Regions from separate parts of the Homo sapiens genome. Here region 2 is linked to region 1. The links come from fine-mapping of genetic effects on gene expression. Tissue or cell type: stomach. Region 1 holds a variant in brackets; the other region holds the start of a gene. All regions are shown on one strand. Distances are from middle to middle.

Evidence for each region. PIP is the estimated chance that this variant, and not a neighbour inherited with it, causes the effect.
Region 2: it holds the start of SLC5A9, and the variant in region 1 is fine-mapped to the expression of SLC5A9 in stomach (GTEx, PIP above 0.99). The same link has a PIP of 0.9 or more in ileum.

The regions. Positions count from the first base shown.
Region 1 is chr1:48,406,578-48,414,776 of GRCh38, reverse strand. SPATA6 (spermatogenesis associated 6) reads left to right here. Exons shown (of 13, transcript NM_019073.4): 4 at 1,626-1,667; 5 at 3,189-3,313. Among named protein-coding and RNA genes, the nearest start is that of SPATA6, 62 kb to the left of the region's middle. The variant A/G (reference allele first, on the strand shown) is at 4,780.
Region 2 is chr1:48,217,705-48,225,880 of GRCh38, reverse strand. SLC5A9 (solute carrier family 5 member 9) reads right to left here and starts at 3,165. Exons shown (of 14, transcript NM_001011547.3): 1 at 2,983-3,165; 2 at 1,086-1,157. The coding sequence starts at 3,144.

The DNA of each region.
Region 1 (8,199 bases):
TACTTATTTGCTGAAAGCTATACTGAGTGAATAGAACTGTGGTAAAGAGCTTTTAGTAATGTAAGGTGTGAGGAGAGGGAGGTGTTCTACAGTCCTATGATCAGGTTGCAGTCTTTTGGTGAGCCTATGCCCCTAAATTGTGACCTTCACCGGTGCTTCTGATTTTCCCCTCTTAGTTTGGACAGGATGGCTGGAGGGAGGTGCAGTGAGTTTTTCCCTTCCCCTGTGTGGAATGCTAGATATGGCTGTAGTTGGGTATTTCCCTTCTCTCACATAGAAGGCTAGAGGGAGCTGGAGTTGGGTTATTTTCTTCCTACAAGTCAAGTTCAGAGCTGGCTGGAGTTAAGTATTTTCTTTCTCTCAGATAGGTTAGGCTCTGATATGAGCCCAGTAGATGAGGCTGTAGAAAAAAGAATTTCTCCTGAGGTCAGGTTTTGTTAAGAATGGAATGCTCTGACGTACTTCAAAATGGTTTCTTTTCTCTTCTCCCTGCTGGTGGAAATATGAGGGGATTTTTCTCCAGTATTTATAGTGAGAACCTAGTAGAACTCCTGGAAGTAAAACTTAACAAAAACTTGAGAGCCCAATGATTGGATTTCTCTGGAGTTTTAATCTCTCACACTTGTCCGCACTGAGCTTCCAGCAATTCATCAGTTCAGGCGACCCACACAAAGTTTCACTAGTCATGCTGGAAGTGCTCTCAAGAAGCAGAGAAAACTCATGACATTACAAGAAAAAGTTGAATTGCTTGATATGTACCATACATAGAGGTCTACAGCTGTGGTTGCATTCCGTTTCAAACAGACAATTTATCTTGTAAGCAGACAATATAAACTTATGGTATAAATAAATACAGTACCATAAATGTGTTTTCTCATCCTTAGGATTTTCTTAATAACATTTTCTTTTCTCTAGCTTACTTTATTGTAAGAATACAGTATGTAATACATATAGCATAAAATATATGCTAATCAACTATGTTCCTAGTAATGCTTCTGGTCAACAATAGGCTATCAAGTTAAGATTCTGGGAAGTCAAAAATTATACATGGATTTTTGATGGCACAGGTGTTGGTGCCCCTAACGCTCAAGTTGTTCAAGAGTCAATGTATCTCACTGTACTCACCACTCTGCTTAAGAAATAGACATAACTTATATTTATAAAAGTATACATTAGGCTGGGCACGGTGGCTCACACCTGTAATCCCAGCACTTTGGAAGGCCGAGGTGGGTGGATCACAAGGTCAGGAGATCGAGACCATCCTGGCCAACATGGTGAAACCTCGTTTCTACTAAAATGCAAAAAAAAAAAAAAAAAAAAGTATCCGGGCGTGGTGGCGCATACCTGTAGTCCCAGCTACTCGGGAGGCTGAGGCAGGGGAATTGCTCGAATCCGGGAGGCGGAGGTTGCAGTGAGCCAAGATTGCGCCACTGCACTCCAGCCTGGCGACAGAGTGAGACCCTGTCTCAAAAAAAAAAAAAGAAGTGTACATTATATACTAATATATAAACATATATGTAGTCTACCTAGTGATTACTTTGGCTTTTAGACACTCCCATGGTAAATTAAGTAATTTTTTTGTTATTAATTTGTTTATTTAAGGAAATTTTTCTTTAAACTTTTAGATGATACAGCAGTGTTCGAGTTGATACAGCTAGTTCCACCAGGTAATATATATTGATGTAATATATACAATATAAGATATCATAAATTGATGTAATATATAATATATTATATATTGATTATACTATATTATTTGATAAGGATATAATATAGTGTATTATATACTGATAAAGTAAATTGACTTGGGAACTCATGTGAGTGACATTTTTTTTTACTTCAAAATCTCATCTTTTCAGGCCGGGCATAGTGGCTCATGCCTGCAATCCCAGCACTTTGGGAGGCTGAGGCAGGCGGATCACCTGAGGTCAGGAGTTCAAGACTAGCCTGACCAACATGGTGAAACCCCGTCTCTACTAAAAATAGAAAAATTATCCAGGTGTGGTGGTGGGCATCTGTAATCCCAACTACTCGGGAGGCTGAGACAGAAGAATCACTTGAACCCGGGAGGCAGAGGTTGCAGTGAGCCAAGATCATGCCATTGCACTCCAGCCTGGGTGACAGAGCGAGACTCCGTCTCAAAAAAAAAATCTCATCTATCCTCCTCTTCCCAAGTTGAGAACAGTGTCAGATTTCTATTGTTGATCTACTATGTGTAAAATGTCAGTAGACCAAAATAATATATACAGAAAGATTGTCATAAATGTCACTTTAATACATTGTTCTAAAATTGAATAGTAATAATTGAAAATGGAAACTAACTTATCATTCTAAAATATTTTGTGACAGTCATAAAAATTGACTTTTAAGTTTTTGTGATTTTTCTAAAACTATATATTTTTATTGATAAAGTAGTTAATTATCATTGTTTTTGTGTGTTGCATATTATTAGGGAAGGGAAGAGAATAAAACCTTACTTATGTAGTAAATGTTACAGTTCCCTGGAGAAGGCAGAGTTAAAATATAGAGGCTAGTTTCATTTCTGATATTGATTTCTGTGATTATAGATGACATCTATATTAATCAAATTTTTATTTTATGTGAAAAATAGAGTGCTGGCTGGGCGCGGTGGCTCATGCTTGTAATCCCAGCACTTTGTGGGGCCAAGGTGGGCAGATCATGAGGTCAGGAGATTGAGACCATCCTGGCCACCATGTTGAAACCCCATCTCTACTAAAAATATATAGCTAGGTGTGGTGGCGCATGCCTGTAGTCCCAGCTACTCAGGAGGCTGCAGGAGGAGAATCACTTGAACCCAGGGTGGGGTGGAGGTTGCAGTGAGCTGAGATGGCACCATTGCACTCCAGCCTGGGCAAAAAGAGTGAAACTCCATCTCAAAAAAAAAAAAGTCTGTCTCAAAAACAAACAAACAAAAACCAATGTGGAGATGGTAACTGACATATAAATGTTGGACCAACTTCATATTTTTGTAGTATGTTTCTGAAAAAGGAAAATGTGTTAATATTTTTAACATATCTTTATTTTAATTTTCCTTTCATAGAAAATAAACATGACCCAAAACAGGTATTTCAATAAGGCATCAGGCAGTAGATATATCATACTTGATGATTTTGTTTCTAAATAGAATATTTTATTATAATTTGAATCATAGGGTATCTTTCTTGTAGTGGGTGAAACACTGTCTACGTATGACGAAAATACACGAGATTTCATGTTTCCGGGTCCAAACCAAATGTCTGGACACCATGATTCAAACCGCCAGGTTACCATGAGGAGGATTTCTGGCCTTCGAGTAAGTGCTTGCAATTTTCTGAATCAGTTTTTGATGGAAAATCATTGTCAGAAACCACCGCATAGTGCTCGCCATCTTAAATGTGAAGAACAAATTCAAAGTGTAATTTAGTTTACTTAATTGTTTTGTAGTTTAAATCTTAATTGTTTTAGATTTCAATATGTTACTTAAACATATAAAGATATTTATTTACAGCAATGTAAAAACAGACTAATACAGTAAATTGGTTACTTAAACATATTGAAATCTAAATGAAAATAATTTAATAAAAAGTGCCATTAAAAATTTTTTAAATTGTAATTGACATTCTTCAAATCTCTGTCATCCCCTTCTCTCCCCATCCCATCTCTGTCTCTCTGTCTCTTTCTTCTCTTTATTTTTCTCTCTAAGGGATGATAATAAACATTTGAAAAAATACTCTAACTCATTAGTATTCAGAGAAATCCAAGTTAAAACAACCATATGATTTCATTTATATAGCTATAAGATTGGGAAAATTTAATAAATCTGATAAAAGTGAAAAACTTAGAATCTTTCATATGCTGCTATACCATGTGATATGGTTAGGCTCTGTGTCCCCACCCAAATCTCATCTTGAATTGTAATCCCTGTAATCCTTGTGTGTCAGGGGTGGGACCTGGTGGGAGGTGATTGGATCATGAGGGTGGTTTCCCCCGTGCTGTTCTCATGATAGCAAGTGAGTTCTCACGAAATCTGATGGTTTTATAAGTGTTTGACATTTCCTGCTGCACACACATTTTCTCTCTCGCCTGCTGCCATGTAAGATGATTTGCCTCTTCCCCTTCCACTGTGATTGTAAGTTTCCTGAGGCCTTCCCAGCCATGTAAAACTGTGAGTCAGTTAAACCTCTTTCCTGATAAATTACCCAGTCTCAGATATTTCTTGCTAGCAATATGACAATGGATTAATACAGTACATTGGTACCGAGGTAGTGTGGCATTGCTATAAGATACCCGAGAATGTGGAAGTGAATTTGGAACTGGGTAATGGGCAGATGGAGGAACAGTTTGGAGGGCTCAGAAAGCAGGAAGATGTGGGAAAGTTTGGAACTTCCTAGAGACTTGTTGAATGGCTTTGACTATAATGCTGTTAGTGATATAGACAATGAAGTCCAGACGGAGGTTGTTTCAGATGAAGATGAGAAATTTGTTGGGAACTGGAATAAGGGTGACTCTTGCTATGCTTTAGCAAAGAGAGTGGCAGCATTTTGCCCCTGTGCTAGAGATCTGTGGAACTTTGAACTTGAGAGAGATGATTTAGGGTATCTGGTGGAAGAAATTTCTAAGCAGCAAAGCATTCAAGAGGTGACTTGGGTGCTGTTAAAGGCATTCAATTTCAAAAGGGAAATGGAACATAAAAGTTTGGAAAATTTGCAGCCTGACAATGGGATAGAAAAGAAAATTCAATTTTCTGAGTAGAAATTCAAGCCAGCTGTAGAAATTTGC[A/G]TAAGTAACAAGGAGCTGAATGTTAATCACCAAGACAGTGGGGCAGATGTCTCCAGGGCATGTCAGAGACCTTTGTAGCAGCCCTTCCCATCACAGGCCTTGAGGCCTAAGAGGAAAAGGTGGTTTTGTGGGCTAGGCCCAGGGTCCCTGTGCTGTGTGCAGCCTAGGGACTTGGTGCTGTGTCTCAGCCACTCCAGCCATGGCTGAAAGGGGCTAACATAGAGCTTGGGTCGTGGCTTCAGAGGGTGCAGGCCTCAAGCCTTGGCAGCTTCCATGTGGTGTTGAGCCTGCAAGTGCACAGAAATCAAGAATTGAGGTTTGGGAACTTCTGCCTAGATTTCAGAAGATGTGTGGAAACGCCTGGATGCCCAGGCAGAAGTTTGCTGCAGGGGCGAGGTGCTCATGGAGAACCTCTGCTAGGGCAGCCTAGAAGGGAAATGTGGGGTCAGAGCCTCCACACAGAGTCCCTACTGGGGCACTGCCTAGTGGAGCTGTGAGAAGAGGGCCACCATTCTCCAGATCCCAGAATGGTAGATCTACTGACAGCTTGCACCATGTGCCTGGAAAAAACTGCAGACACTCAGTGCCAACCAGTGAAGGCAGCCATTAGGGAGGCTATACCCTGCAAAGCCACAGGGGCGGAGCTGCCCAAGACCATGGGAACGTACCTCTTGTATCAGTGTGACCTGGATGTGAGATATGGAGTCAAAGGAGATCATTTTGGAGCTTTAAGATTTGATTGCCCTGCTGGATTTTGGACTTGCATGGGGCCTGTAGCCCCTTTGTTTTGGTCAATTTCTCCCATTTGGAGTTGTTGTATTTACTCAATGCCTATACCCCCGTTGTATCTAGGAAGTACTAACTTGTTTTTGATTTTACAGGCTCAAAAGTGGAAGGCACTTGCCTTGTCTTGATGAAACTTTGGACTGTGGACTTTTGAGTTAATGCTGAAATGAGTTAAGACTTTGGGGGACTGTTGGGAAGGCATGATTGGTTTTGAAATGTGAAGATAAGAGATTTGGGAGGGTCCAGGGACTGAATGATGTGGTGTGGTTCTGGGTCCCTACCCAGATCTCATCTTGCAGCTCCCATAATTCTCATGTGCTATGGGAGGGACCTGGTGGGAGATGATTGAATCATGGGGATGGGTCTTTCTCACGCTGTTCTCATGATAGTGAATGGGTCTCATGAGATCTGATGGTTTAAAAAATGGGAATTTCTTTGCACAAGCTCTCTCTTTGTCTGCCACCATCCATGTAAGATGTGACTTGCTCCTCCCTGCATTCCACCATGTGGAAGTGTAAGTCCAGTAAACCTCTTTCTTTTGTAAATTGCCCATTCTCAGGTATGTCTTTATCAGTACCATTAAAAATGAACTAATACAATATCTATCTTAAAGATGTATTCTCTCTGGTACACTAAGAGCCTTCTTAAGAATGTTTACCTGTTGGTTCATAATAGTGAAAAATTGAAATAATTGATATGTCTGTTAGTAGGAGTTTAGATAGATTAATTGTAAAATATGTATATAATGGAAATATATATTCATACACCTAAAATTAAAAGCTGCATCAAGTGACAGCTTACTCTCTATCCTTTACTATAACTTCCTTCAAGTTCTGTGGATGATTTGAAAATATTTTATTGCTGAAAGTAAGTCTTCCATGCAGAGAAACTGAGAGAAGCCCATGCCATTTCAAAAGAGGAAAAGCAAAAATTGTCCAGCTTGAAATTATTTGGATAGACCTTTAAAACTAATTGTATAAAATATTAGAGTAGTCCGAATAAGGAGAGTGTTGATATATGAACAAATATAGTTAACTAAGTAATTTCTCCTATAGATTTATGATATGCCCTATTCCAAGAAAAAGCAGCTTCATCTTTATGAAAGTATAAAAGTTGACTAAGTAGCAAGTCTATAAAACTATACTTTCTTTGGGGATATTTCAGTGTCCATTAGCATGCTTCTGTACTATGAAAGTCTTCAAAGAGTATTTCAAGATCTGTGTGGAAACATACAATGAACAAATAATCACATTTTAAAATTATGGTCTCTTTAATGTAATTTAAAATTCTGTATTATACCAATGTGGTAATATAAACTCAAGAGTATGGAACATTAAGAGGGATTTACTTTTCATCATTTAATTTGAGTTACTTTTGCATTTATTTGGAAGATGATGGATTATTAAAACAAAAATATATAAAAATTAGGACTTCTACGAATGGCAGTTTGAAGAGATTGAGAGTTCTTATAAAACTAGACAAAATTTTCACAAACAATGAATTCAGGATACTGGAAACTGACAAGGTAAGACGAAGAAGTTTTCATGCTTGAAAAACTGCTAAAGCTTTGGGAAAAACTGGCGAGACTATTAACATTCTTGCCTGGGATGCTCTTATATTCTGTTTGGTAAGTGAGAACTAAAGTTTATCTATTCTGGAGCTAGTGCAAAAATCAACAGCTTTGCTACCAGAGGGAACAGAATCAGTTTTGGGCAGTGGCACAAATAGCACAGCTTTGCCAGCTAACTGTGGTGGATTCAGTTGGAGCAGATGAAGAAACCCCACAGCTTTGCTAGGCAGAGCTCTAACTGGGGCAAGGATTACCTGCCAGAAAGTTGACAGGAAGGTCCTGGGAGTAAGGTAACAATAAAGGGCTGAGATAAACTCTCCACCTATTCTTGGCTGACTGTGAAACTGCATATCAAGGGGAGACAGTGAGAGCCCAGCCAAAAGTGAAAGCCAAGGGAGACTGGAGTCCTGGCTGCAATTTTGAATGATTTCCTAATCTATACACAGGTCATCAGCAGAGGGTAGGACTCCTATGGGTTCACTGGATGACCACTTACCTATGCATATGCAGGTGAGACTCCTAGAAAGAATCAAAGAATAGAAATACATAGAACATATATAAACTGAACACCAAATTGGCAGTTCTAAATCTAGCCATATCTATCATTATATTTAAATACGAATAGGAAAAATGCTTCAATCAGTAGTTTGTTGCCCTGGCAGAAAACAGCGCACTCCTTCTGGGAATTCTTGTGATTCTGCATAATCATCTGTAAGTCCCAGGCTATGCTCCTGAAGCCTTTACTATGGCAAGGATTCAGACAACATTTGGGATTAAATTCTGGCACTTTCATGGATGAACTGAGTAACCTTTGGCAAAGCACCATAACATGGCGATATCATAGGGTTTTTGGGTAGATTAATGTAAACTTGTAAATGGTTATAGCAGTGTCTGGCAAGTAAACACTCAATAAATGTTAGTGATATGATGATAGCTGTGAATATCATGATGGTGATGATGGAGTAGAGATGATGATAATATCTCCTGTTCTAGATTGTGAACTCCATAAAAACAGAATCTTTGACTTTCTCATCTTTGAATTTAACTCTTAACACAGTACCTTG
Region 2 (8,176 bases), 190 kb after region 1:
TGAGTCTGAGTGTGCACGTGTAAGTATGTAAAGGAGCATGAGTGTGAGACTGCATGTGAGTGTATGTGATTGTGACAGTGTGTATGAGAGTGAGAGTGTGAGTGCGTGAGAGAAGGTGTGAGTGTGAGAATAGGAGTATGATTGTGTGCATGAGTTTGCAAGCATGTATGAGTGCGGGCATGTATGAACATGTGTGGGTGCCTTTGTATGTGAGTGTGAGTGTTGTGTGTCAGTGTGTGAGAGTGTGCATGTGGGAGTGGGTATGCACACATGCCGTGTGTGAGTTTTGCATGCCTGGGTGTGTATACTGCTTCAGCTACCACTGGGGCTGATGACTCTACTGGTAATTTTTGAGGCAGGGCTTTCCTCCCTCCATCCCATTCCAGGAGGAGGAAGTTAATTTTGAGGACCAATAGAAATGTGAGGTGGCTTGATGGGAGAAATTGTGGCTCACGAAGGTTTGGGGATCGATTCCCTGAGGTTTTTGGGGATTTTACCTCTGTGATTCCCCTAACTTAGAAATGTGGTGTGGCTTGATGGGAGAAACTGTGGCTCACAAAGTTTTGGGGATCGATTCCCTGAGATTGCTGGGGATTTTACCTCTGTGATTCCCTTAACTTAACTGTTCTTCAATATTAAGCTTATGTGTCACCTTCCCCCCAAAATCTTTCCTAACCCTAGCTGACTCCACTGTCTGGTGGTCAGGGGCTTCCAAGCTCTGGTGAGTGCCCCCTGCTTCCCTCTGGCTCAGCAGTGCGCATGATGTTTATGAATCTATCTGCCCCACTCAGCTCTGAGCTTCTCTAGGACAGGGACATTCCAGATTCATCACTGCAAGTCAAGTGCCAGATGTAGGGCCACACCTAGGAGGGGCCAGGGGATGTTTGTCCAAGGTGCGTGCTAGCAGGACCACTCAGGTTGCGGGGCGGGTTTGGGCGGGAGAGAAGGGGCCCAGAGTCAGGAAACACAACGGGGAGGTCTTTGCCTTGGTCCAGGTGTGAGAAGATGGGACAAGTGCTTGGATAGTGGGGAGGAAGAAAGTTGGGAGCCTCTGCACTAGGGGTGGTTGAGAAGGGTCAACTCACTGGCCACCAGCTCATGGACCTCCCGGCCAGGAAATAGCCGCCAATGGTCCCTCGACTTGCACGGATGGACGACTGGAAAGGAAATAGATGAGATGAGGATTTCTCAAGACTCTCTGAACCTCTGCCCTGCCCCCTCCCCGCAGATTTCCTTCCCCTCGGTGCAGGCACTGTGGGGACACAGAGGGTGAAAACTGAGGCAGAAGAGAGCTGCCTGAGGCTGGTTCCACAGTTTCTAAGCGATGTATCTTGGCAGAGTCACTTTCTCTGTGAGCCTCGCCATTCATCTCCCAGGGCCAGTGCGAAGAGCAAAGGAGGTAACGGATGTCACGTGTGTGAAGCCATTGATTGTGCACTCTTGTCCCCTTATCCTTCCCTCCCCAAAGTGCGCTTTCAGAGTATGATTTGTTATCACCTCCTTAGATGTGTAGTGCTCACCCTTTCTCTGAGCTGATCCCCTCCCTGCTCCCAGCTGAGCTCCCACACTGGAGGCGGGAGGACAGAGAGGGCTGCAGTTTGACTGTGAGACTTTGAGCCCTGAGTAGAGTTATGGGTACTGTTTTGGAGTTTCCCTTGCCCTGGGTTGAAATCAGATCACGCCACTGAGCCCCATCCAGGACCTCCCTGTCTTACACCAGTAGGTGGTCAGTTAGCAGCCTGTTGGAATATTCTCTGGAGATACAGGGTGAGGGCAGGGCAGTGGGTAGGGAAGGATGAACTTGAAGCAGCTATTCAGATGCAAAAGCCAACAGTTCTCTGACTTTCCCCTAAGGGAAAATAATCAGTCACGAGGGAGTGATAAATATGTGTGGGGCCTTGTGCTTGTTAAGCTTTTGCTTGTATTTTCCTTGTCAGCTCTGATCCTCTTGGAGGCCATACGAGCAAAACAGATCCATTTTACAGATGTGAAAATGGAGGCCCAACATTGGAAGCAATTTGTCCAAAGTCACAGAGGAGTTGGTGCTTTTCTCGGCTGGCCACTTCCAGGAGCCAGTGACCATCTGTTAGCCCAATTCTTCCTCACACCAGCACTAGAAGGCAGGGACTGTTCACCCCCCTTTATAGATGAGGAAACTGAGGCTCAGAGAGGGTCTCTGACCTGGCCACAGCCTAGGAAGTGACCATCTGGGACTTGAATCACAGCAGAGTCTAAAGGTGCTCACACTTCTGTGGAATGCGTGGTGATAATAGCAGCCATTTATTGCCTGCTGATCGGGCACCAGGCACCGTGCCAGGTGCTGCAGTATGTCCTGTTGCTGAATGATCACAGCATAGTCCTTATTCTCATTGTTCACCTGAGAAAGCTGATAGGCCTCATATGTTCCCAGGGACATGAGGCTCTCATTGTTGCAGCTGGGACCTGAACTCAGGTTTCCCTGACCCCAAAGCCTGGCCCCTGCCTCTAGCACTGAGGCTCCTGGGAACAATGGAGAACAGAGGAACCTTGGAATAAGCCTGGCACACTTCCCTGAGAGCACATGAGCCCCTTCTCATTTAGAAATCACCTTAGCCAAGATGCTAACGAATGCAGGACTGAGGTAGGGCCAGGGGTCAAGAGTTCTCAGAGTTGGGGGCCTTGGGGTGGGAAGAAGGAAGGAGTGAGGCTCAGGGCAACCAGGGATGGTTGGGGCCAAAGGCAGCAGGTGCTCAGAGAGGAGTCAGGAGTCGGGGGCCTGGTCTGCCTCTGACTCTCTGTGTGACCTCAGACCAGCCACACCCCTCTCTGCCCTTCTAAAAATGAGGAGATCAGGAGCCTGATTCCTGAAGGCCCTTCCTTCTCAGCCACATGGTTCTATGATCTGCTTCTTTCTGCCTAGCCCTGCCCCAGCTCCACAGCCCCACCCAAGCTGAGAGACCACTACTACCTCCCCTGCTAGCCCCAGCCTCAGGGCCCACTTACCCAGATCCCCACAGCAATGACGAAGACAAAGTAGATGACCACCACGCTGATGTCGTAGGCGTGCAGACCAACTCTGGAGTCCAGTGCTATGTGTGGAGCTGTCTCAGTCCTGACCCCGTCCCCTGAAGCTCCAGGCCCCATTGCTGCCAGCTCCTTGCTCATCTGTTAGTGTTGGTCAACAGCAGGCTGGACTTTGAGGCGCTCCTGGCTTCATTCCTTTCCTTTAATGATTAAACTGCCCCAAGCACCATTAGTTGGTGAGAAAACTCTGAGCCCTGCTGGCACATACAGTCCTGCCTCCTTTTCTCCCAACTGCCACCACCAACCCCTGCAGGACTCCTTCCTTCCTCTTCCTTGCTGCCACTACGTGCACACACATACATGCATGTGTACACACAGGCACACACATACACGCAATCTCCCTAACCCCAGATGAGCAGGAGGAGAAAGGAGGGGGAGGAGGAAGAGGAGAAAAGGAGCAGAATATTGGAACCCCAGAGGTGGGAAGGACTTCAGAAATCAAAGTGTTCAAACTCCTGTGTGGTGGGAAAACCAAGGCCCAGGGAAGTAAAGGTGGAGCCGGGACTGGAGTCCAATTTTCTTAAGAGTTCAATACAATTGTCTTTTACCTAGTGAGAGGAAGACAAGGGGAAGGAGGTGAGGAGTCTACTGTGACCCTAGCAAAGTGGCCACCACCTCATGTACTCCCATTCCAACCTACCTAGATGTTGCTTTCTCTTTTTATATAGTGTAGGAAACTGAGGCTGGGGAAGACATCATCATTTATTCCAAGGAACTAGGCAGGGCCATCTCTGAAAAGGCAGAGCCAGAATTCACATCTTCTGATGCCTGACCCATACTTCCTATTCTGTACTGTGACAGATGAAATGGTTGTGGTCAGGAGGCCTTCCCTGAAAAAGATACAGTGCTCCCTGGGTCCAGGGAAGACCATCTCTGGGACTCAGGCAGCCTAGATTTCAGTCCCAGCTCCACCTCTCACTGAACTACAGATGCCCTTGGGCAGGTTGCTAAATGTCTCTGGGCCCGGGTGTCCTCATCAGTGTGACCTGTGCCCTGCCTGCCTCACACCACCAATGAGGCTAAGATGTGCTCCTGAGAACCTCTGCAAACCCTGAGCTACTGAATGTTCTTGGGGTTAACACAAAGAAACCAACATCGACCACCATCTAGCCAAGGGGCCCAGATGCCACGCACTTAGATATCTGCTCACATGGTCCTTCCAAAGTAGCTGCATTTGGAATATTTCAGTCTTACAAATATTACTCTGCATGCATCTGCTGTAGGGCCCAGACTGGAGCAGCAGGAAAACAGATCTCACTGGCCCTGTCCCACACCCCATCCCCAGCTCTCACTGGCCCTGTCCCACACCCTATCCCCAGCATCTTATAAGTATCCCAAGGCTGGGTGTGAGGACCAGATCCTCTTTTTTCCCCTTTTGGTGGAAAGAAAAGTGAGAGGCAGGGTCCTAGGCCTTCTCTCCCCAGTTCTCCTATCCCAGAACATCAGGCACTGGCCAGGCTGAGCCCCGAGGAGAGGGATATTGATCTGGGAGAGAGGTCAGCATAGTCCCCAGCTGGACAGGGCTCTGTGGGATCTAGCACCTGTTAGGATTAGATACCAGAGGAAGAGTCCTTCATATACACGTTTAAAGGCAAGTTTATCAGACGAACAGGGATGCAGGAGGGGCAGCATTAGAAACATCAGGAAAATGTGATGGACCAGGTGCCCAGTGGTCCCTGGGGGTGAGCTGGATACAGGGACAGTGGGGAATGAGGCTGGCAGATCTCTGGGTGTTAATCAGGGAGCAGGGAAGGAGTGGTCTGAGCTTAGGCCTCTGAGCACACCATAGTGAGGGCTCTGGATCCGGATGACTCTTCCAGAGATGGGAAAAGGAATGTCGCAGGGAGAAGACAGCTGAGTCTTGTACTTCTTTCTATGCTCCCCACAAGGAGCCCCCTCACCCAGCCCTTGGGGTTTGCTATAGTTTGGATGCTTGTGTTGCTTCCAAAATTCATGTTGAAACTGAATCCCCAATGCAACAGTACTAAGAGGTAGGGCCTTTAGGAGTGATTAGCCCGTGAGGGCTTCTCCCTCATGGGTGGGATCAGTACCTTATAAAAGGGCTAAGGGAACTAGCCAGGCCCTTTTGCCTTTTTACCTTCTGCCATGTGAGGACACAGCCACAAGGTGCCGTCTTGGAGGCATAGACTGGGCCCTCACCAGACACCAAACCTGCTGGGGCTTTGATCTTGGACTTCCAGCCTCCAGAATTGTGAGAAATAAATTCCTGTACTTTATAAATTACCTGGTCTTAGGTGTTTTGCTGTAGCAGTAGGGATGGACTAGGACAGTGTTCTGCTGCCTGCATGCTCTGTCTTCCCATCTACCTCACAGATACATGAGGCTGACCCCCAAACCCTGCACACTTACCTAATCCAAAACTAGCAGGTTTGGGTTTATAGTAGCCTCTCCTCGAATGCATCTAAGACTTATCTGTAAGCTAACCAGGCACATTAGCAGCCCAGAGACCAACAGAGCATGAGGAAGGGAGCAAAAAAGGCTTTGAAACAGCCAGAATAGACATTCTAAAACTCATGCCCAAAACCTAAATCTTTGACTTATCAGTGAGCCTTGTGACCCCACTCAGAGACTGTTTATTTTTGTTTTAGCCAGAGTCTTGTTATTCATATCCCAACTCACAACAAATTAGAAGAGAGGGGGCAAAGCTACACAGGGACAGCAAGGAGAATGGCAGCTGATGGGTTGATGGTGCATGAGAGGTCATTAAACCTGGAAAGACCAGGAAAGACAATGTAAAAGATGACTAAATCGGGGCAAACAGACCTATAAAACTGGGTAGATCAACTCTCAACAAAGGGCATTCTTGAGTAGCAGCCAAGATTCACACACATACGGATGACCCAGAGTCATCAAGGAAAGGTGACTGTGGTCATTATGAGTTTTCTATTTAGAAGGCATGGAGTATGAAACCCAGGCAGGAAGAGTTTCATGCAAAATGGTCAAACATTTTAGGCAGGTGTTGGCATTCAAAGCTGAGGCCTCAATTATCCAGAATATTCTCTCAGAGAGCTTCCGAGAGTGAAGGATGTCCTCATGCTGTCAGTCCTACATGAAGTGAGGCCTGTCCTATCCCTGACCCTGTTCAGGGAGCACACATGTCTTTAGTTGTTCATGCCTTGTGGGGAATACAGACAGTCAAAAGACAGGTGCTTTTGACACAAAATAGGTCACTTTTGTCCACCCCTTTCTTCCTTTTAGCTGGATAGCCCAGAGGAAGGATCAATGAAGTCCTTTGTTGGAGAGACTGAGAAAGCTTTATGGGAAGGGGAATGGTTTCAGCCATGCATAAAAAAGTATAGAAATATAACAGGCCAATAAATGGAAGTTGCCACTGAGGCACAAAGACATACTACACATAAGAAGAACAAAGTTGGAGGTTTCATGCATCCTGATTTCAAAACTCACTACAAAGCTACAGTAGTGAAAGCAGTGTGGTAGTGGCATAAAGACAATCATATAAACCAATGGAATAGAACAGAGAGCCCAGAAATAAAGTCTCACAGTTACAGTCAAATGATTCTTGACAAGAGTGTGAAGACCACTCAGTGGAAAAATGACAGCATTTTCAACAAATGATGCTGAGAAAATGGAATATTCCTATGCCAAAGAAAGAAGTTGGACCCTTACATTGCACCATATATGAAAATTAACTCAAGATGGATTGAAGACTTAAATGCAAGAGCTAAGAAAATAAAGCTCTTAGAAGAAAACATAGGGTAAAATCTTCATGTTGTTGGACTTGGAGATAATTTCTTGGTGATGATGCCAAAATCACAGGCAATAAAGGAAAAAATAAATAAACTGAACTTCGTCAAAATTAAAAACTTCTGAGCATCAAAGGACACTATCAACAGAGTGAAAAGGCAACCGATGGAATGGGAGAAAATATTTACAAATCATACATCTGATAAGGGATTAGTACCTATAATATATGAAGAATTCCAGTAAATCAACACAAATGAAACTAACAATCCTACTCAAAAATAAGCAAAGGAGTTGAATAGACAATTCTCCAAAGAAGTTATACAGGTGGCCAAAATGCATATGAAAAGATGTTCAACACCACTAATCATTTATCATTGTGATACAATATCACTTTGTACCCATTTGGATGACTATTATCAATAAAACAGAAAATAACAAGTGTTGGTGAGGATGTGGAGACAGTGGAAACCTTGTGCATCACGGGTAGAAATATAGGATGGTGCAGCCTGCATGGAAAACAGTATGGTAGTTCCTCAAAAGATTAAAAATAGAGTTACTATGACCTAGCAATTTCACTTTTGGGCATATATCCAAAAGAATTGAAAACAGAGATTCAAAGAAATATTTGTACACCCATGTTCATAACAGCATTAATTTTAATGGCCAAAAGATGCAAACAACCCAAATGTCCATCAACAAATGAAGGGATAAACAAAATGTAGTCAAAACATTTAATGGAATATCATTCAGCCTTATAAGGAATTCAGGGCTGACACATACTACAACAGAGATGAACCTTGACATTATGCTGAATGAAAGAGAATTTTTGAGTGGCAAGAAACAAATACATAAGAAAAGAAATAGAGAGTTTACTAGATTAAAAGCTCACATTGAAACCCTCACCTCTCATAAGCAACAGTCCTTGATCATTGATGCCCAGTCTTGCTGCCTTTTTTCCTTAGAGCCTATAGCTAGGGCTGTCATAATAAGGACCACAAACTGGGTGACTTAAGCAACAGAAACAACATTCTTGGCTGCCATTCAAGAATGCCCTTTGTTGAGAGCTGATCTACCCTATATGAATGGAACCATATAGCATTTGTCTTTGACCCAAATGCTGTATGGTTCCATTCATATAGGGTGCCTAGAGTCGTCAAAATCATAGACACAGAAGGTAGAATAGTGGCTGCCAGGGTTTGGTGGAGGAGGGCTTAGGAGTTATTGTTTAATGGGTACAAAGTTTCAATTTGAGAAGATGAGAAGAGTTATGGAGATAGATGGTGGTAATGATTGCTCAACACAGTGAGTGTACTTAATATTACTGAATTCTATTCTGAAAAATGGTAAGTTATACATTATATATATTTAACCACAATAAAATGTATAG